Regions from separate parts of the Homo sapiens genome. Here all the other regions are linked to region 2. The links come from fine-mapping of genetic effects on gene expression. A gene starts in region 2. Each other region holds a variant in brackets. All regions are shown on one strand. Distances are between the middles of the regions. Region 1 has its middle 59 kb from the start of SLC34A2. Region 2 holds the start of SEL1L3 (SEL1L family member 3). Region 3 overlaps TBC1D19 (TBC1 domain family member 19). Region 4 overlaps SEL1L3 (SEL1L family member 3).

Evidence for each region. PIP is the estimated chance that this variant, and not a neighbour inherited with it, causes the effect. A credible set is the group of variants that fine-mapping cannot tell apart.
Region 1: its variant is the best candidate, but not a certain one, in a credible set for the expression of SEL1L3 in prefrontal cortex (CommonMind, PIP 0.82).
Region 3: its variant is the best candidate, but not a certain one, in a credible set for the expression of SEL1L3 in B cells (CEDAR, PIP 0.70).
Region 4: its variant is the best candidate, but not a certain one, in a credible set for the expression of SEL1L3 in monocytes after LPS (Quach 2016, PIP 0.75).

The regions. Positions count from the first base shown.
Region 1 is chr4:25,712,127-25,717,278 of GRCh38, reverse strand. It overlaps a transcript of SEL1L3 not described here. Among named protein-coding and RNA genes, the nearest start is that of SLC34A2, 59 kb to the right of the region's middle. The variant AG/G (reference allele first, on the strand shown) is at 2,701.
Region 2 is chr4:25,860,378-25,865,529 of GRCh38, reverse strand. SEL1L3 (SEL1L family member 3) reads left to right here and starts at 2,542. Exons shown (of 24, transcript NM_015187.5): 1 at 2,542-2,855. The coding sequence starts at 2,694. LOC102723733 (a long non-coding RNA gene) reads right to left here and starts at 4,403. Exons shown (of 2, transcript XR_427503.5): 1 at 3,377-4,403. It overlaps LOC124900688 (a long non-coding RNA gene), which reads left to right. Exons shown (of 3, transcript XR_007058092.1): 3 at 124-322. RefSeq lists silencers at 2,309-2,468, 2,519-2,978, 3,249-3,543.
Region 3 is chr4:26,642,106-26,647,257 of GRCh38, reverse strand. The region is part of intron 7 of TBC1D19 (TBC1 domain family member 19); the gene reads right to left. Among named protein-coding and RNA genes, the nearest start is that of TBC1D19, 61 kb to the right of the region's middle. The variant C/A (reference allele first, on the strand shown) is at 3,021.
Region 4 is chr4:25,836,978-25,842,129 of GRCh38, reverse strand. The region is part of intron 2 of SEL1L3 (SEL1L family member 3); the gene reads left to right. Among named protein-coding and RNA genes, the nearest start is that of SEL1L3, 23 kb to the left of the region's middle. The variant G/T (reference allele first, on the strand shown) is at 2,704.

The sequences.
Region 1 (5,152 bases), 150 kb after region 2:
CAGCCAGGAAAAGGTTCATCCTCCCTCTATGCCCAGAGGTAACCATGACTTGAATTTAATGGGGTTTTTTTTATTTTTAATTTTTGTGCTACATAGTAGGTGTATATATTTATGGATTACATGAGTTTTGTTTTTGTTTTTGTTTGTTTTTCAAGACAGGGTCTCACTCTGTCATCCAGGCTGGAGAGCAGTGGTGTGATCTCGGCTCACTGCAACCTCTGACTCCTGGGTTCAAGTGATCCTCTCACCTCAGCCTCCCAAGTAGCTGGGACTACAGGCATGCACTACCATGCCCGGCTAATTTTTCTATTTTTAATAGTGACAGGGTTTCACCATGTTGACCAGGCTGGTCTCGAACTCCTGGGCTCAAGAGATCCATCTGCCTTGGCCTCCAAAGGTTCTGGGGTTACAGGCATGAGCCACCGCACCTGGCCTTTTTTTGAATTTAGTGTTTCTAATTCCATTGTACTTGTCATACTCTTACTACATATGTAGATTAGCACAAAAATTACATAGAATTATTTGAATGTTTTAAAATTTTATTTAAGTAATATTCTTTAAACCATTTGCTTTTCAACTCCAGCTTACGTGTTTACACTTTATTCTCATTGATACATATAGGAATCTTGGAATAGGAATATTGCTATATAATGTTCAATTTTGTAATAACATTATTTATTCATTTTCTTGTTGATTTTTGTTAATACAAATAATATATCAATGGATATTTTGTACGTATCTTTTAAAGCAAATGTTCTAGAAGTTTTCTAGATTATGTACCCAAAAGTGCAATTACTGTGTCAAAGGGCATGCATATTTTCTACTTTATTGCCATGTAGTTCTCCAATGTGGTAATACCAATTTACATTCCTGCCAGCAAGCTATGAATGTTCTCTATGTTCTATATCCTCACCAATACTTGAATGTGTCAGAATTTAAAACGTTTCCCAATCAACTGTAGTAAAATGATAGCTCATTTTAATATATAGTTTCCTGATCACTATAATAAGCCTTTCTTATTATGTTAATTGGCCATTTACATTTCTTCTTCTGTGAGTGTTTTGATCATATTTTCTGTTCATTTTCATATTGGATTTTTTTTTCTTATTGATTTGGAACTCTGGATACGAATCTTTTCTCAGTTACGTGTATTGAAAATATATTCTCCTACTGTCTTTTAACCTCTTATGATACCTTTTATTATATCAAAAATTTTAACTTCAATGTAGCAAATGTGTTCAATTTTAATATATTGCTCTTTCTTTTGAAAGATAATGCATACAGCACATAGCTTAAACTTCAAGAGGTACAAAAGAGCATATAGTAAAAGGTCTATTCTCTGCCTCTTCAAATCACCCAATTCCCTTTAGTGTCCTCCCAGAATTATGCACATAAAAGCAAAATACAATAAATATTTTCACTTTTTTAATCCAAATATTAGTGTACACTGTTATGCATCTTGGGTTTTTTTTTCTTCCTTTACTATATAACCTGGAGATTATTCCACACCAGTAATATATTTAAGAGAGTTTCTTTGTTGTTTTATAGCTATATAATATTCCATAATATGAATGTACTATAATTTATATTTAACAAGATTAATATTTAGTGGCTTCTTTCCCATATTTTGTTGTTACAAACAATGGTGCACTGAGTAACCTTGTTCTTTTATCATGGCACACGCGTGTGTAGATGTCTAGGGAAAACATTTTTAGATATGGAAATGGCCAAAGAGTAGGTACAATTGTAATTTTGACAGATATTGCCAAATTTCCACCATAGGGGTTGTAAAAATTTGCTCCCCACAGCATTGTAAAAGGGTCTATTTCCTCTACCATGGACAATAACATAAGTCAGACTTCTGGATTTTTACCAACCCGATAGGTGAAAAATGGGATCTCAATGTAGTTTTTATTTGCATTTCTTTTTTAAAAAATATAATTTTTAAAAATTGAGAGCGTGTCTTGCTCTGTTGCCCACGCTGGTCTCCAACTCCTGGACCCAAGTGATGGTCCTGCCTCAATCTCCCAAAGTGCTGGGATTACAGGTGTGAGCCACCATGCCTGACCATTGATTTGTATTTCTGTTATTATTAACGAAGTTGAACATAGGGTGCAAAAATTTAGTATTTTTAGATTCTTAAGACCACTTATGTATACTTTTCTGTGATCTATCTGTTTCTATCGAATTATTGCTACTTTATTGATTTGAAAATGTTCTTTCTTGTTGAAATTAGCTCTTTGTCTGTGACATAAGTTGTAGTGGTTGTTCCCATGCATATGATTCAACTTATTTGTTTTTGTTTTATGATTTGAGCTTTCTCTGCTTTTGTTAGGTTTTTTCCTGATCTGATGTCATCAAAATATTATCCTACATTTCAAAAAACTTTGTAATATTTTGCATTCTTGGCAGGGCGCGGTGGCTCACACCTGTAATCTCAGCACCTTGGGAGGCTGAAGCAGGCAGATCACTTAAGGCCAGAAGTTCAAGACCAGCCTGGGCAAAATGGAGAAACCCCATCTCGACTAAAAAATACAAAAATTAGCCGGGCATGGTGGTGCATGCCTGTAATCCCAGCTACTCAGGAGGCTGAGGCAGAGAATTTCTTGAACCCAGAAGATGGAGGTTGCAGTGAGCCAAAATTGCACCACTGCACTCCAGCCTGGGTGAGAGAGCAAGACTCTGTCTCAAAAAAAAAAA[AG/G]AAAAAGAAGGAAAGAAAGAAAGAAGAAAGAAAGAAAGAAAGAAAGAAAGAAAGAAAGAAAGAAAGAAAGAAAGAAAAAGAAAGAAAGAGAAAGAAAGAAAGCAATTTTATTTTATTGTCCATATACATAAGTAGCTGTACCATTTATTGAATAATCCTTTTCATCCCAGCAGACTGGTAATGGCACTTTTGGAGATGATGAAATTTGCAATGTATATGAGGCTCTATTTCTGAGTTCCCTGTTCTAGCCCTCTGGTCCATTCCAGTGCTTAGTAACCTTTGTACATCATTTTCACATAGAAAATGATCATCTTCGCAAGGTACTTTGGAGTATATGAAAAAGGCTGGTGGTCCCATGGGGCTTCAGCTACTGCAGGCCCCCTCACTTTATGACATGAACTCAATCTCATAAAGATTTCAAGTCCCCCCAAAATTCATCTGTAAACTCACCTAATTTTAAAATTTTTTTGGAAGAGCAAAGGGACAAAAAGTACTTAAGACAACTTTGGAGAAAGACAAAGAGGAGTGACTTGCCTTATCAGACAAATCATTTAAATTGCATCATCACTGGTGGTTCACGTGTGGGAAAAATAAATAGATAAATTGCATCCTCATCTTTTTTTAAGGCTTTTAATGAAGTTTTATAATTTCTATCCTAAAGGTTTAACAAATATTTTGTTAAATCTATTCTTTGGCCGGGCACGGTGTCTCATGCCTGTAATCCTAGCACTTAGGAAGGCCGAGGCAGGCAGATTGCCTGAGCTCAGGAGTCCAAGACCAGCCTGCACAACATGGAGAGACCCCGTCTCTACTAAAATACAAAAGATTAGCTGGGTGTGGTGGTGGGCGCTTGTAGTTCCAGCTACTCGGGAGGCTGAGGCAGGAGAATTGCTTGAACCCAGGAGGCGGAAGTTGCAGTAAGCCGAGATCAAGCCACTGCACTCCAGCCTAGAAGACAGAGCGAGACTCCGTCTCAAAAAAAAAACAAAAAACAAAAAAACTATTATTTGATATATTGCTGTTTTGCGGATATTATAAACTGTTCTTTTCTCCCCTTCCTTAAAGAGTCAGGAGAACATAATGATGAAGATGATAAAATAATCATCATCATCATCATTCATCATCATGATCATCATCTTGATGGCAAATAGCTACCACTTATATAGCCAAGGACTACTCAAAGGACTTCACATATTTTAACTAATTTATCTCTATAAAAACCCTACTAAGTTTCCCGGTTCAGTGGCTCATGCCTGTAATCCCATCACTTTGGGAGGCCGAGGCGGGCATATCACTTGAGGTCAGAAGTTGGAGACCAGCCTGGCCAACATGGCAAAACCCTGCCTCTACTAAAAATGCAAAAATTAGCCAGGCATGATGACATGCTCCCAGCTACTTGGGAGGCTGAGGCACAAGAATCACTCAAACTCAGGAGGTGGAGGTTGCAGTGAGCTGAGATCATGCCACTGCAGTCCAGACCAGGTGACAGAATGATACTGTCTCAAAAAAAAAAAAAAAAAAAAGCAAACAGAGGAAGTAAATTACCTAAATGATAGAAATCTTTCAGCTCCCCTATACAAAGATTAGCCTTGTGTGTGGGTATGTTGAATGTACTGAGCTCCAACTATGGGATTTAAATGTTACCACATGGTTTGCAACATTCATTCTATTGACTGCATTTTATAAATTAAATTATTTTGAAAGTGCCACTCAACTTACATTTGATAAAATCATAAACAGAGAACAGCTCCTCCACTTACACGCAGGGCTGCGACTCTGGAAATTTTCCTCCTCCCTGTCCTTTGTTTGAAGCACTGATCAACTTGTCCTGGGCTCCCTGCTTGTTTCCAGACCAGGGTTTGGAGTGGCTGACTTTTCTTTACCTGCCTCCATGCATATTCCACAGAGATTAAAATCATGTAAGGATCTTTCTCCACCAGTAGGGAAAGAATAGGCTCTTCCACAATTGGTTCTGGCACAACTGAATTCCCACATGCAGAAGTATTATGTTCAACCCCTTCCTCATATCACATACAAAAATTATCTCAGGGCTAGGTGCGGTGGCTCATGCCTGTAATCCCAGCACTTTGGGAGGCCGAGCTGGGCGGATCACTTGAGGTCAGGAGTTCGAGACCAGTCTGGCCAACACGGTGAAACCCCGTCTCTACTAAAAATACAAAAATTAGCCGGGCGTGGTGGCGTGTACCTGTAGTTCCAGCTACTCTACTCGGGAGGCTGAGGCAAGAGAATCTCTTGAACCCGGGAGGCGGAGGTTGCAGTAAGCCAAGATCATGCCACTGCACTCCAGCCTGGGTGACAGAGCAAGACTGTCTAAAAAATAAATAAATAAATAAATCTCAGAATGGATCAACAACCTAAATATAACAGCCATAGTACTCTTAGCAGAAAAGTGGAATAAATCTTCATGACCTTGGATTTGGCAATGGTTTC
Region 2 (5,152 bases):
AATGACTGACACAAACTGCTGGAGAGACGCAAAAGTAAGAGCTGATTCTGTCTTCTGGATCAAAACGTCCCACTCCCCCGTGAAAAGAAATCTTGACTTTTTCTCTCCCCCTCTCCAACACAGGATGAAGCAGTTAATCCCACCACCTCTAGCTCAGGATGAGAGAGCAACTCACACATCCCTCTTAGAAGACCAAACTCTGGCCGGTTTTCTGCATGCCTGGTGCTCCTTGCAGAAACAGAGCCTTCCTGCCTACCTCTGGAATCCTGGGGCCTCAGGTGGTGCCCAGTCCACAGTAGGAACACAATAGGAGATGAGTGAGTAGGGGAGAAGTGAGCAGTTGGATATGGCAAGTTAGAAACAGTCCAGCCTCCAGTGGGGCACTCTGCTTACCTACACTTAGGTAAACCCAAATCCTCAAAGCTCACAAGGCCTTGAAAACTCCCAATTCCATGAATCCTGATTACAAACAACCCCGAGGAACCATTTAGCTCCCCGAAGACCAACAGAATCTGTGTACAATGTGGGAGGAGAGAAACTCCGGAGCGTGGCCCAGGAAGACAGGTGGCAACCCTAGAAATGCTGCAATGCCTGTTGAAGCCCCTTCCCCCTGAACTGGCCGACAATTTTCCTTCCATATACATTAAAAGCATAGTCTGTATTTTGACCTGATGGAAAAGATATAGACAGGATCTGGGACAAAGCCACCAAATCTTTTGTTCCCTTGGACACTCGATAGAATAAATGTTTTCCACGTCACACAGAAGAATGTTAAGTGCTTTGTTTCTGCAGAAGTGGAACAGAGATAGTGGGAGCATCTGTCAAAACCCCCAAAATGCTTTAATGTGGTGGCAGCTGGCTGGGAGGAGCAGGAGCCCAGTTCCCTAAAAGCCAATAGTTCTGGAAATGGAGGAGGGCTGTTTGAACCAGCGCGTTAACATCACCCAGGAGCTTGTTAGAAAGGTACATTCTCAAGTCCCTCCCAGGACCAACTGAGTCAGAAATTCTAGGGCTGAAGTCCAGGAATCTGTGTTTTAACAATCCCTCCAGGTAATTCTGAAGTTTGAGAACCGGTGGAATAAGGCCAGGGAACTCACACAAGGCCACAGCTCTTAGGTGACCTAAAAAAAAGTGGACGACAGCTGAGGAGCCACCATGCCTGGTGTGGCCAGGCCTGTACTGAAGCAGCTGAGGGCGCGTCCACGCCCGTCAAACCATCCCGGGCACCCCGTCTCACCACCAGCCTCTCCCCGACGTCTGTTGTGACTTGACCTATGCTCGTGGCACAGGGAAAGGGCTGTGGCCTCTCAGGCTCCCAGGCTATTATTAGTTCCAATCCGCACAAATCTACCAGTGCTAAAGGGAAGCTTCTGCGAACTTTGGAAGGTGGATTAACTGTTTCAGAGCAGCAGCTGCGGGCCCAGATAGTTGTCGGAGCCGCTAGACACAGCCAAGCGCTTCCCTGAAAGCCAAGGCCGGCGGCGAGCTGGTGGTCCCGCCGGCCGGAGGCCCCTCCCCGCCAGGCCGCAGAACCCGGGTCGGAGAGCAGCCAGTCTCAACCTGCGTCCCCAAGGCCGAGGATGTGTCCTGGTTTTTTAAAAAGCTGTTTGCGCACTTCCAGGGCCTCACCCCTTTCATTTGGGGCTCCAGTATTACTGTATTGACCTAATTAATTCATTTTTTTCTCAGTCCAAAGTGGAAGCCGGAGCACAGGGATGCAAATCAAATACAAACCCGTCCTGGGTGCCAATACTCTGGACAATTAAAACAAAGAGCGCAGTGGTGGCGGTGGCGGCGGCACCACACAAAACCCTCGGGAAACATCCAGAACGTGCCGCGAACCAGCCGGCAGGGTGGGGCGCAGCCCGGCTGCAAACATGCCAGCAAGGAGGCAGTCCCAACCCCGCAGGTGGACAGGTGGAGGTTGGCAGGGGTCAAAATCCATCCTGAAGGCCTGGGAGCCGGGCAGCTGCGCGGCACAACTCCAGGGGGCACACTCGCCCTGCGCCCTGCGGGAATGGCGCCCCGGCCAAAAAAGCAACCAGACAAAAACCCATTGCACGGGCGGGAACTGGTCTGTGCGACCCGCAAAAGGGGTGGGTGGGAGAGGAAGAATGCGGAAGCGAGGAAGAGGATGGGAAGGGAGAAAGAGGAAAGGGAGGAAAAGGAGAAAGTGAAAAAGAGAGGGGGTTTGGGAGCGCGAGGGGAGAAGGAAGAGGGAGCCGGAGGGAGAGGAGGGGGATCGCAGAGAGCAGGAGCGCGGAAGGGGGGCGGGGGAGGAGCAGAGAGAAAGGGAAAGGGGGGTGCGCCGGGGCCCAGCGACCCGGGCGGGGGGTGGCGGCGGCCAAGGGGCGGGACCCGGGTCGGTGCCCACCTGCGTGGGCGCCCGCTGCTCCGAGGGGTGGAAGCCCGGGGGCCAGAGGGAGCGGCCGGGAGGAGGGCTGGGCAGGGAGGCAGAGGGGAGGGAGGGGACGGGGACGGGGAGGCGGGGAGGAGCCGGCGCTCGGCTGGGGCTGCGGGGGCGGCGACGGCGGGAGCGGCAGTGGCGGCGGCGGCGGGTCCGGAGGTGGCGGCAGGTGGCCCCGCGCGCGGCGGCCGGCCCGGCCGGGGGCGGGCGGGAAGGTGGCGCCTCGGGCGGGGGCCGGTCCCTGCACCAGGTGACCTGTTCCGGCCCGGATCCGGGCGGCCTCGCCATGCAGCGGCGCGGCGCGGGGCTCGGGTGGCCGCGGCAGCAGCAGCAGCAACCCCCGCCGCTCGCGGTCGGCCCCCGGGCCGCAGCCATGGTCCCGAGTGGCGGCGTCCCCCAGGGCCTCGGCGGCCGCTCTGCCTGCGCGCTGCTCCTGCTCTGCTACCTGGTGAGCGCCGGACCCTGCCCGGGTCTTCCCCTCCGCGCGGGGCCCCGGGGACGCGGGTGGGGGCGGCCGGGGACACCCGCCACGCGGGGCGGGGACGCCGCTGCTAGTTTTCTCTCTTCCTCGTCGCTGCGCCCCGGGCGTTCCCGGCACCTGGGATAGGTACCCCGGGCGTGGAGAGGGGCGCTTGGACCGGACTTGCCAAGCTGCTCTCTCGCTCGTGCTCATTCCTTTCCCTCCTGGACTCTCTCTAGACCCGGGTCGGGTTACCCTCGAGACCCCTTCTTGTCCTCGACTCCACCCGGGAGCCTCGCCGCCCGGAGTTCGCTCCCCGCCCCGCCGCGCGCAGTCTCCAGCACCCCCCAACCCCCCACCCCTCCTGGGCTTCCCTCTCAATCTTCTCGCAGCTCCTTTCCTTCCCGTGCCCAACTTCGCCTCTTACTCTCGGCGCCCGCCACCCGCGTCGACCCTCCTTTTAGTTTCCACCGGGTCCTCCCGGCCCGGACAGTTTTCTGCCAACGCACCTCGCATCTCCAGCGCTCTTCAACTCCTCCTTGGTCACTCCAGCCAAGTTGCGGATGCCGGAAAGAAATCTAGTTCTCTGTAACACGCTTACCGCCAGAGTGGTGACTTTAGCTGCGTCTTGAACATTGTCATTTCAGAGAATATGTTTGGCTCATGCATGTCAGTTTGCAATTTGCACACTTCTTGGCTTCTGTTTTAGTCATCAACTAAAGGGCAGTAACCTATTTTTCAAAACCCATTTATTTTAAATACCAGAGTAGCTGAGACCCCTCAGAACAAAGTGGGGAGAAATTTTCTCAGTTCCTTTGAGGGCTTGCTTGCTTCTGTTTTGAGTTCTCCTAAACAATAGTAAATTTACAGAAGGCGACACCCTTCCTGCCCAGAGTAACTTATGTTCCACAATCCTGCAGAAACCTTGGGTTATCTCGCCATATATTACTGTAAATAAATGAAATGGAAAATGCTGAATCATGAAACTGATGTAATAGGAAATTCACAGAATGCCAAAAAAAAAAAAAAAAAGAGCAGTGTCATTGTCCAGAATTCATTTCACTTATGTGGCATTGTCATTATTTGGAGTCTTTCTTTTTGGAAGCTAAAAACTGCTTAGGAGATACTGGCAGAAATTAGAATTTGATTCTGAAGAAATTTGCCACTCAGCCCGTTTCTTTTAACGTTTTTTACTTCTTGAATGTTTCATTTCTTGAAGCAAGAAGGTGTAAAAATGCAAATTATAATTCTGCCTGTGCATCTACCTGTTGAGCAATCCGTGCTTTTACTCATATTTCAGAATTAGCCAATATCAAATTGTGTGGTTGGGCTTACTTCATATTTTCATAAGAAGTTGTCAGTTAACATGAATGATATTTTTTTGCCCAAGAGATATTATTATTTAATATTTATGCCACAAGGTTACAACACACAGGCTCATAAATAAAACTGCCATAACAAATGACAAGATTTCAGTTTAAACAGATGATCCCTGTACACAGGGCCCTGCTGGCTACCCACAGAAGCAGAAGTGATGTAGTAGAGTGTTGCGTGAAACATTCATATACAAATGGGCCGGGCCGAAAAGTTCCACGTGGACATCTCAAGACCTGGCAAGGAGGGGGACTACTTCTGGACAGTTCAGGAAGTCAGAGTCAGGAGAGCAAAGCCTAAGGGCCTAAGTGGACTCTGGAAACAGAGACAGATAATGATGGAGCAAGTATTCCTGTGAAAGTTCTGTGTACACCAAGGGGGATTAAGAGAACAGAGGGAAAAATGATGCCATGGATAGACTCAAGTGAGATAGTGAAGGAGTGAGGAAGGGCTCCGGAAAGAGTAATTTTAGAAAATACTGTGATGTGGAAAATAACTAGAGCATGGATGAATGTCTTGGCAGATGGGGAAGGAATGGATTTGGGGACCTCATGGTGGGGGGAAATGTCAGTGCTTCCTGCCTTTGTATGCTTCCTTCAGATGGACTTCTGATACGCTTACTGTACAAGACAGACTTTGATAAACAAGAGAGCCATTTTGCAAAGGACACAAAAGGCCGACTTAAAAGGTAGTCTCCACATTTTGTTCTGAAGATCTAGCCGTTTACTAGGGATGTTGCTCTTGGGTCTACACTACCCAAGATACTACTGAAGGCAAGGCTTCTTGATCTTGGAGAAGCTTGGTGTGAGAATTGGGGAAAATGTAAATATCCATATGAAACACTTGAAAAACATAAAACAATAGAGAGAAAACGCAAATGTATAATTGTGTGCATTTTGCTCAATCAAGGA
Region 3 (5,152 bases), 780 kb before region 2:
TTCCTCCTCCTGTATCCTCTATCTCATGTCAAGTAACTTCTAGCCAATTACACAACCTAGATACTTGAAGGTGATCATTATCTTTTCTTTTTCTCATAGACCCCGTATCTGATCAGTTCCCAAATCATCCTTAAAATCTCTTTCAAATCCATCAAATTGTTTCCATTTCCAGTGTTGTTGTCTTAGTTCAGACACTCATCATGTCTTCTGGACTACTAGAACAGGGAATGGAATAAAAAAGAAAAAGATTTCCTGAGTATGTATATGTGCCAGGCAGCAGGCTATGTGATGTACAGTCACTATTCTTTTTCATTATTTTACTTTTTTTAAATTATACTTTAAGTTCTAGGGTACATGTGCAGGTTTGTTACATATGTATACATGTGCCCGTGTTGGTTTGCTGCACTCATTAACTTATCATTTACATTAGGTATTTCTCCTAATGCTATCCCTCCCCCATTCCCCCACCTCAGTGTGTGATGTTTCCCACCCTGTGTCCAAGTGTTCTCATTATTCAATTCCCACCTATGAGTGAGAACATGCAGTGTTTGGTTTTCTGTTCTTGCGATAGTTTGCTCAGAATGATGGTTTCCCACTTCATCCATGTTGCTATAAAGGACATGAACTCACCCTTTTTAATGGCTGCATAGTATGTGCCACATTTTTTTAATCCAGTCTATTATTGATGGACATTTAGGTTGGTTCCAAGTCTTTGCTATTGTGAATAGTACCGCAATAAACATATCTGTGCATGTATCTTTATAGTGGCATGATTTACAATTCTTTGGGTATATACCCAGTAATGGGATCACTGAGGCAAATGGTATTTCTAGTTCTAGATCCTTGAGGAATCACCACACTGTCTACCACAGTGGTTGAACTAGTTTACACTACCAATAGTGTAAAAGCGTTCCAATTTCTCCACATCCTCTCCAGCACCTGTTGTTTCCTGACTTTTTAGTGATCACCATTCTAACTGGTGTGAGATGGTATCTCATTGTGGTTTTGATTTGCATTTCTCTGATGGCCAGTGATGGTGAGCATTTTTTCATGTGTCTGTTGGCTGCATAAATGTCTTCTTTTGAAAAGTGTCTGTTCACATCCTTTGCCCACTTTTTTTTTTTTTTTTTTTTTTGAGACGGAGTCTCGCTCTGTCGCCCAGGCTGGAGTGCAGTGGCGGGATCTCGGCTCACTGCAAGCTCCGCCTCCCGGGGTCACGCCATTCTCCTGCCTCAGCCTCCCAAGTAGCTGGGACTACAGGCGCCCGCCACTACGCCCGGCTAATTTTTTGTATTTTTAGTAGAGACGGGGTTTCACCGTTTTAGCCGGGATGGTCTCGATCTCCTGACCTCGTGATCCGCCCGCCTCGGCCTCCCAAAGTGCTGGGATTACAGGCGTGAGCCACCGCGCCCGGCCCTTTGCCCACTTTTTGATGGGGTTGTTTTTTTCTTGTAAATGTGTTTAAGTTCTTTGTAGATTCTGGATATTAACCCTATGTCACATGGGTAGATTGCAAAAATTTTCTCCCATTCTGTAGGTTGCCTGTTCACTCTGATGGTAGTTTCTTTTGCTGTGCAGAAGCTCTTTCATATAATTAGTTCCCATTTGTCAATTTTGGCTTTTGTTGCCATTGCTTTTGGTGTTTTAGACGTGAAGTCCTTGCCCATGCCTATGTCCTGAATGGTATTGCCTAGGTTTTCTTCTAGGGATTTTATGGTTTTAGGTCTCACATTTAAGTCTTTAATCAATCTTGAATTAACTTTTGTATAAGGTGTAAGGAAGGGATCCAGTTTCAGCTTTCTACATATGGATAGCTAGTTTTCCCAGCACCATTTATTAAATAGGGAATCCTTTCCCCATTTCTTGTTTTTGTCAGGTTTGTCAAAGTTCAGATGGCTGTAGATGTGTGGTGTTATCTCTGAGGCTGCTGTTCTGTTCCATTGGTCTACATCTCTGTTTTGGTACCAGTACCATGCTCTTTTGGTTACTGTAGCCTTGTAGTACAGTTTGAAGTCAGGTAGCGTGATGCCTCCAGCTTTGTTCTTTTTGTTTAGGATTGTCTTGGCACTGCGGGCTCTTTTTTGGTTCCATATGAACTTTAAAGTAGTTTTTTCCAATTCTGTGAAGAAAGTCAGTGGTAGCTTGATGGGGATGGCATTGAATCTATAAATTACTTTGGGCAGTATGGCCATTTTCACGATTTTGATTCTTCCTATCCATGAGCATGGAATGTTCTTCCATTTGTTTGTGCCTCACTTTGGGCAGTATGGCCATTTTCACGATTTTGATTCTTCCTATCCATGAGCATGGAATGTTCTTCCATTTGTTTGTGTCCTCTTTTATTTCATTGAACAGTGGTTTGTAGTTCTCCTTCAAGAGGTCCTTCACATCCCTTGTAAGTTGGATTCCTAGGTATTTTATTCTCTTTGTAGCAATTGTAAATGGGAGTTCACTCATAATTTGGCTCTCTGTTTGCCTGTTATTGGTGTATAAGAATGTTTGTGATTTTTGCACATTGATTTTGTATCCTGAGACTTTGCTGAAGTTGCTTATCAGCCTAAGGAGATTTGCAGCTGAGATGATGGGATCTTCTAAATATACAATCATGTCATCTGCAAACAGGGACAGTTTGACTTCCTCTTTTCCTAATTGAAAACCTTTATTTCTTTCTCTTGCCTGATTGCCATGGCCAGAACTTCCAACACTATGTTGAATAGGAGTGGTAAGAGAAGGTATCCCTCTCTTGTGCCAGTTTTCAAAGGGAATGCTTCCAGTTTTTGCCCATTCAGTATGATACTGGCTGTGGGTTTGTCATAAATAGCTCTTATTATTTTGAGATACGTTCCATCAATACCTAGTTTATTGAGAGTTTTTAGCATGTAGGCTGTTGAATTTTGTCGAAGGCCTTTTCTGCATCTATTGAGATAATCATGTGATTTTTGTCTTTGGTTCTGTTTATGTGATGGATTATGTTTATTGATTTGCATACATTGAACCAGCCTTGCATCCCAGGGATGAAA[C/A]CGACTTGATCTTGGTGGATAAGCTTTTTGATATGCTGCTGGATTTGGTTTGCCAATCTTTTATTGAGAATTTTCACATCAATGTTCATCGGGGTATTGGTCTAAAATTTTCTTTTTTTGCTGTGTCTCTGCCAGGCTTTGGTATCCGGATGATGCTGGTGTCATAAAATGAGTTAAGGAGGATTCCCTCTTTTTCTATTGATTGGAATAGTTTCAGAAGGAATGGTACCAGCTCCTCTTTGTACCTCTGGTAGAATTCGGCTGTGAATCCATCTCGTCATAGACTTCTTTTGGTTGGGAGGCTATTAATTATTGCCTCAATTTCAGAGCCTGTTATTGGCCTATTCAGTGATTCAACTTCCTGGTTTGGTCTTGGGAGGGCGTATGTGTCGAGGAATTTATCCATTTCTTCCAGATTTTCTAGTTTATTTGTGCAGAGGTGTTTATAGTATTCTCTGATGGTAGTTTGTATTTCTGTGGAATCGGTGGTGATATTCCCTTTAGCATTTTTTATTGCATCTATTTGATTCTTCTCTCTTTTCTTCTTTATTAGTTTTGCTAGCATTCTACCAATTTTGTTGATCTTTTCAAAAAACCAACTCCTGGATTCACTGATTTTTTGAAGGGTTTTTTGTGTTTCTATCTCCTTCAGTTCTGCTCTGATCTTAGTTATTTCTTGCCTTCTGCTAGCTTTTGAATGTGTTTGCTCTTGCTTCTCTAGTTCTTTTAATTGTGATGTTAGGGTGTCAATTTTAGATCTTTCCTGCTTTCTCTTGTGGGCATTTAGTGCTATAAATTTCCCCCTACGCACTGCTTTAAATGTGTCCCAGAGATTCTGGTATGTTTCTCTTTGTTCTCATTGGTTTCAAAGAGCATCTTTATTTCTGCCTTCATTTCGTTATGTACCCAGTAGTCATTCAGGAGCAAGTTGTTCAGTTTCCATGTAGTTGTGCGGTTTTGAGTAAGTTTCTTAATCCTGAGTTCTAATTTGATTGCACTGTGGTCTGAGAGACAGTTTGTTGTGATTTCTGTTCTTTTACATTTGCTGAGGAGTGCTTTACTTCCAACTATGTGATCAATTTTGAAATAAGTGCGATGTGGTGCTGAGAAGAATGTATATTCTGTTGATTTGGGGTGGAGGGTTCTGTAGATGTCTATTAGATCAGCTTGGGGCAGAGCTGAGATCAAGTCCTGGATATCCTTGTTAACCTTCTGTCTCATTGATCTGTCTAATATTGACAGTGGGGTGTTAAAGTCTCCCATTATTGTGTGGGAGTCTAAGTCTCTTTTTAGGTGTCTCAGGACTTGCTTTTTGAATCTGGGTGCTTCTATATTGGGTGCAAATATATTTAGGATAATTAGCTCTTCTTGTTGAATTGATCCCTTACCATTATGTAATGGCCTTCTTTGTCTCTTTTGATCTTTGTTTGTTTAAAGTCTGTTTTATCAGAGACTAGGATTGTAACTCCTGCTCTTTTTGTGCTTTCCATTTGCTTGGCAGATCTTCCTCCATCCCTTTATTTTGAGCCTATGTTTGTCTCTGCATGTGAGATGAGTCTCCTGAATACAGCACACTGATAGGTCTTGACTCTTTATCCAATTTGCCAGTCTGTGTCTTTTAATTGGGGAATTTAGCCCATTGACATTTAAGGTTAATATTGTTATGTGTGGATTTGATCCTGTCATTATGATGTTAGCTGGTTATTTTGCTCATTAGTTGATGCAGTTTCTTCTTAGCATCGATGGTCTTTACAATTTGGCATGTTTTTGCAGTGGCTGGTACCAGTTGTTCCTTTCCATGTTTAGTGCTTCCCTCAGGAGCTCTTTTAGGGCAGGCCTGGTGGTGACAAAATTTCTCAGTATTTGCTTGTCTGTAAAGGATTTTATTTCTCCTTCACTTACGAAGCTTAGTTTGGCTGGATATGAAATTCTGGGTTGAAAATTCTTTTCTTTAAGAATGTTGAATATTGGCCCCCAGTCTCTTCTGGCTTGTAGGGTTTTTGCTGAGAGATCTGCTGTTAGTCTGATGGGCTTCCCTTTGTGGGTAACCCAACCTTTCTCTCTGGCTGCCCTTAACATGTTTTCCTTCATTTCAACCTTGGTGAATCTGACAGTTATGTGCCTTGGGGTTG
Region 4 (5,152 bases), 23 kb after region 2:
TACTATGTATCAATTTCTTTACTGAGTGTGGAGGCTTAAAGATGAGGACAAAGCCACCCTCTTTAACATGGCTACCAATAGTTACAGTCACTTACTGCTACTGAACATTTGCTATGTGCCAGGCACTGTCAAAGTGCTTTATGTGGTTTACGTGGTTATCTAATTTTTTTGAGACAGGGTCTTGCTCTGTCACCCAGGCTGGAGTGCAGTGGCGCGATCTCAGCTCACTGCACCCTCCGCCTCCCAGGTTCATGCGATTCTCCTGCCTCAGCCTCCCGAGTAGCTGGTGTTACAGACACGTGCCACCACACCCAGCTAATTTTTGTATTTTCAGTAGAGATGGTGTTTCGCTATGTTGGCCAGGCTGGTCTCAAACTCCTGTCCTCAAGTGATCTGCCTGCATCGGCCCCCAAAGTGCAGGGATTACAAAGTGCTGGGTGAACTACAGCGCCTGGCCCGCTGTTATTTAATTTAATATGCCCAATATTCCACCAAGGAGAAAACAGAAAACTGACTCAGAGAGATAGAGTAGTTTGTCTAAGTTTGCACAGCTATTAATGAAGATGCTGGAGTTTGAACCTGGATAGTTTGGTTCCCAAACCCCACACTTATTCATTAGGCTAAACTACCAGGTGATGTCATGAAGCTATTTATTTATTTTAAGTCATTCATTCACTGAAAAAAAGTTCCTGAGCAATCTGTGTGTGTTAAGCACTTTGTGTGGCTTCTTCAGAGGAGGTGACATTTTGACAGAGACTTGAAGGATGTGTAGAGTTTTCATGGATCAAAAAGGAGGGGCTGGGTGCAGTGGCTCACGCCTGTGATCCCAGCACTTTGGGAGGCTGAGGCAGGCAGATCACTTGAGGCCAGGAGTTAGAGACCAGCCTAGCCAACATGGTGAAAGCCCATCTCTACTAAAAATACAGAAAATTAGCCAGGCATGGTGGCATGCATCTGTGGTCCCAGCTACTTGGGGGGCTGAGGTGGGAGAATTGCTTGAATTCAGGAGATGGAGGCTGCAGTGAGCCAAAATGGTGCCACTGCACTCCAGCCTGGGTGACAGAGCAAGACTCTGTCTCAAAAAAAGAGAAGAAGAAGGAAAAAAAAAAAAGGAATGAAAGAAGGACATTGAGCTTTCAGGCAGAGGGGAAGGCATAAGCTGTGGCACACAAAGGAGAAAATTCCGGATTGGGAAATGGTGATAAGCCTTTGTTCCTTGACGGGAAAGATGGCAACAAGGGCTTCATCTCACAGGCTAGCTTGTGTTGCTTGGGGGTGGCTGCCTAGAGCATGGTGTTGAGTAGGATTCTGAGGATGAGTCTGCACTTACTGAGAAAGAGTGCCATGTCCATCAGTTACTGTCTGCCATGGAGTGGAAATGTGGACTAGCAGCACACTTGCTGTGGTTTATTTTCCAAGGTATAATCTCAGGTGTGACATGGGCAATTCAAGAAGTAAGACTGGATAAGCAGTTTAGGAACACTCTTGGAAGGTTCTTAAATGCCCTAATGTTTAGCTTTATGAACACTTCTCTGATCTTCCCTCTTAAATAAGAAACTCTGGGGCAACATGGCAGTTTTCTTCTTCTCCACTCTTTTCGTTTCAAAAATGCATTCTCATCTTCAGATCCAATGGACTGGAAGTATGATTTTTTATAACAAAATTTCATTACAACAAAATGATTGAAAGTTAAGTCAAGTGTTGGAACCAGCCTTGACTTGTCTTTGTGAAAAAAAATGGTTTATGCAGCAGGACTATTCAAGTCAATGTCATGATAGTACTTTTAGTAGTTATAAACTATATATTTGGCATTAAAAAAAACAGACCTAGTTCCTTTTTTTCCAGTTAATCATGGTAGTCTGAATTTTTCAGTAATAACACTAATTAATGCCTAGCATCTACATTCCCCTTTATGATTTTTCGAAACACTTTTTTCACACACATTGTCTCATTTAATCCTCATAATAGTACCATGGGAAAGACAGTATTATTCTCAACCTTTCTTTAACAAAGAGGAAAACCGAGGCTCAGGGAGTTTGTTTAACTGGAGTCCAGACTTCCTGATTCTTTTGACTTTGCTATGCCGCCTCTCTGAAATATGCTAATACAGTCCTAACCCAGGTTCTAAATTAGAAAGAATACTTTTTTTAAAGTTGAATTTTTATCGATGTGAATCATCCTGTTTTCTTCACCCACTGGACTTTGTGTCTTTGAAGCGGATTGGGCAGACTTGGAGGCCGAGGGTGGGGAGGCCTTGGGATGTAGCTGGCTCCTTCTATATGCCTGCCCGGAAGTGCTCAGAGCTTTTGTTCTTTTCTTTCGTAGACGAAAAAGTAATACGTGTACACGGTAACAATAAAAAAATTTAAATAGCGTGAAAAGGTTTAGGGGAACGAGTAAGTTTCCACACCCCTCCCCCTCGAATCTTCTGGTCCTTTTCCCAGAAGTAAATTCATTAGCAACAGTTTCTTGTGTTTCCTTCTAGAAATGTTCTCTGCACATACAAGCGTTAAGTTGTGTCCCGTTTTCTTCCTGCACAAATGAGAGGATTCTAGAAACAGACCTGCGCTCATTAACAATACAGTAGATTTTTCTGTACCAGGACATGCTGCCGACCTCATTCTTTTCAACAGCTCCTTAGCGTTGCATCGCCTGACAGACCGTAATTTATTTAACCTATCTTTTGCTGATGATCATGCTGTT[G/T]CTTTTAACCACAAGGCTTCACTGAACATCCCTGTACATGTATCTCTGTGCACACTCATAAGCATGTTTGGAGGATAAATTACTAGGAGTAGAACTGGTTTTATTCTTAAGATTCCTGCCATCGAATGTTCCACAGACTTCCTTAGGAACCTGCTTCACTGCCTAGTATCCTTTCTGGAGGAAGTTCTGACCTAAATCATATCTGCTAGAAAATCGAGTTTTTATTCTCAGACTTTGGCTTTAAAGAAAATTAAACACCTTATTGGCCACTGGCTTTTGAATGTCCTGTGTTTGGAAAGCATTATTGAGCTGCCTGTGCTCTGGCTTTATTTCTCCAGGTTGAGAAATCTTCGCTTCTTTCCCCGCAGATTTTGCTTACAGACTTGTAGTCATTGTGATTCCTTGCATTGAGACCATCTTCAGCTTCTCTGAAGGTGGGCTGATGATCTCAGTGGCTTCATTGCTGTGTGTTCGAAGCACATCTGGAGTGGGGTTTTGTTACACAGAAGTGTTACCTTTGTTACGTGGAAGTGTTACCTTTTCCCAAGCAAGGGATCTGTGTCAGGGTTCTGATCACTCAGCTGAACCAGAGAATGGGCTACATAATCGTCCCTTAACCCCACCTGACCCAGGGATGAGATTTAACATATTTAACAACCAGTGAGGGGTGGGGGCCTCGGTGAACTCCAGTGGGTGCTAGCCTTAGTGCTGAAGCCGGCTCCAGAGGCCGCTGTTGGGCCAGGCTCTAACTTGAAGGAGGGGCCAGGGTGGGTGGCGGGGCCTTGGAGGTTCAAGGTGACATCAATTATCAAACCAAAATAGAAATATTTCAGTGTTTTAGCAACCAGTATATCCGCACAGGTCATGCCCACTGAATATCAGCCGAGGTTCTCTCTGGGAGGACTTGTGAGAAGAAAAGCCCATTGGTTTGCAGTGGGGAGGCCAGGTTTGAGTCATATTAGAGCTTCTTCTAGCTATGAAATCTTCAATAAGACACTCACACTTTTCTTGTCTCCAAATGGAGGGGTTTGCACCATATAATATCTGTTGCCTCTTCTTGCTCTAAAATTTGAGGAAATAATACAAGCAAAACAGCAAAGGGTTCCTAACATCAACTGTTTTCCTGGCATTCTATGTTTATGTCTTAATGGTGTCTTTGTTTGTTTGTTTGTTTAACCTAAGCTCTTCATGCAAAATAAGCTAAAGAAATGAATGTGGGGAAAGGATTTGAAAGAAGAAAGGTCATTCTTTGGCTTACGCAGTGTGGTGCACATTACAGAATTGTGGACAGTACTAGGAGGAAGGGAGACAGGTTCAAATCCTGACTTGGCCACACCTATATTCATTCATTCATCAAATATTTATGGGGTCTTTATCAAGTACTGCACACTGTTCTAGATTCTGGGGATGGAATAGTGAATAAGTAAGGCCCCTGCTTTAATGAGTACATCCTAGAGGCAAAGCAGTAAACTTCTTTGGACCTAAGTTTTCCTACCTGTAAATTATTTAGTGGTGGATGGCACTGGTATTGTTGCTACCCATTCCACTGCCCATGACAAGACATCACTAGTCAATTATAGCATTGCACTCAGCCATAACCAGTTATTAGACAATAGATCTATATGTTATCCTGATAAATAACATATAGGATAAATAACATATCCTATATGTTATTCAGATGAATTTTAAAGTCTTCTCCTGCTCCAAAATTAATTCTTGTTCATTACCTCTAATTGTAATCAAAAGACAGTATCATACTGAGGGCAAACTGCACTAGGAATCCAAATTATACACATCGCAAAGCTACAGATTTGAAAGAAAACTACCATTACTTTGGTTTTGTTGGGTACAAACGGTATGTGTTCTTGTAAAATTATTTTAGATCTTTGGGGCTGAGCTTTTTCCTTCATAATCTATTGCGGCAAGTTCTCCCGTTTGACCTGCTTTATTTTGGTCTTTGGACAGGGAAGAGCTCATTGTCATTCACGTTTAACTCTTTCCACTTTAGAAACCTCCTTTATGAAGCTTTTTTTTTTAATTGGAGTCAGGTTGGGCAGAATTGAATCCCATTTGTTTTGACAAATGTTTCCACTGCACACTAGATCACTCAACAGCCATCACCAGCAGAAGGCTTCCTAGGGGTCTAACGTGGCCATCTGGTCTCTTCTGCTCCACTCAACATAGTGGAAGCCAAACCAAAGTTGAGCTGATGTCAACTTCCTTGGTGAATTTTTCCTTCAGATTCCAAAGAAAACCTTTGCAGTACTTCCATTTCTCACCCCTCTCACCACCCCCGTCATAGACCAGCAAGTCCAGTGGGCCCAAATTGAGCTCAAATTGAAAAAACAAAGGGTTTCAAGTGCTTCTGTTGAAATTGATAACTCCACTCTTTTGGATTTCCAAATGCATCTCTACTTGTAACAAACCATGAAGATTTGTGGCTACTGGG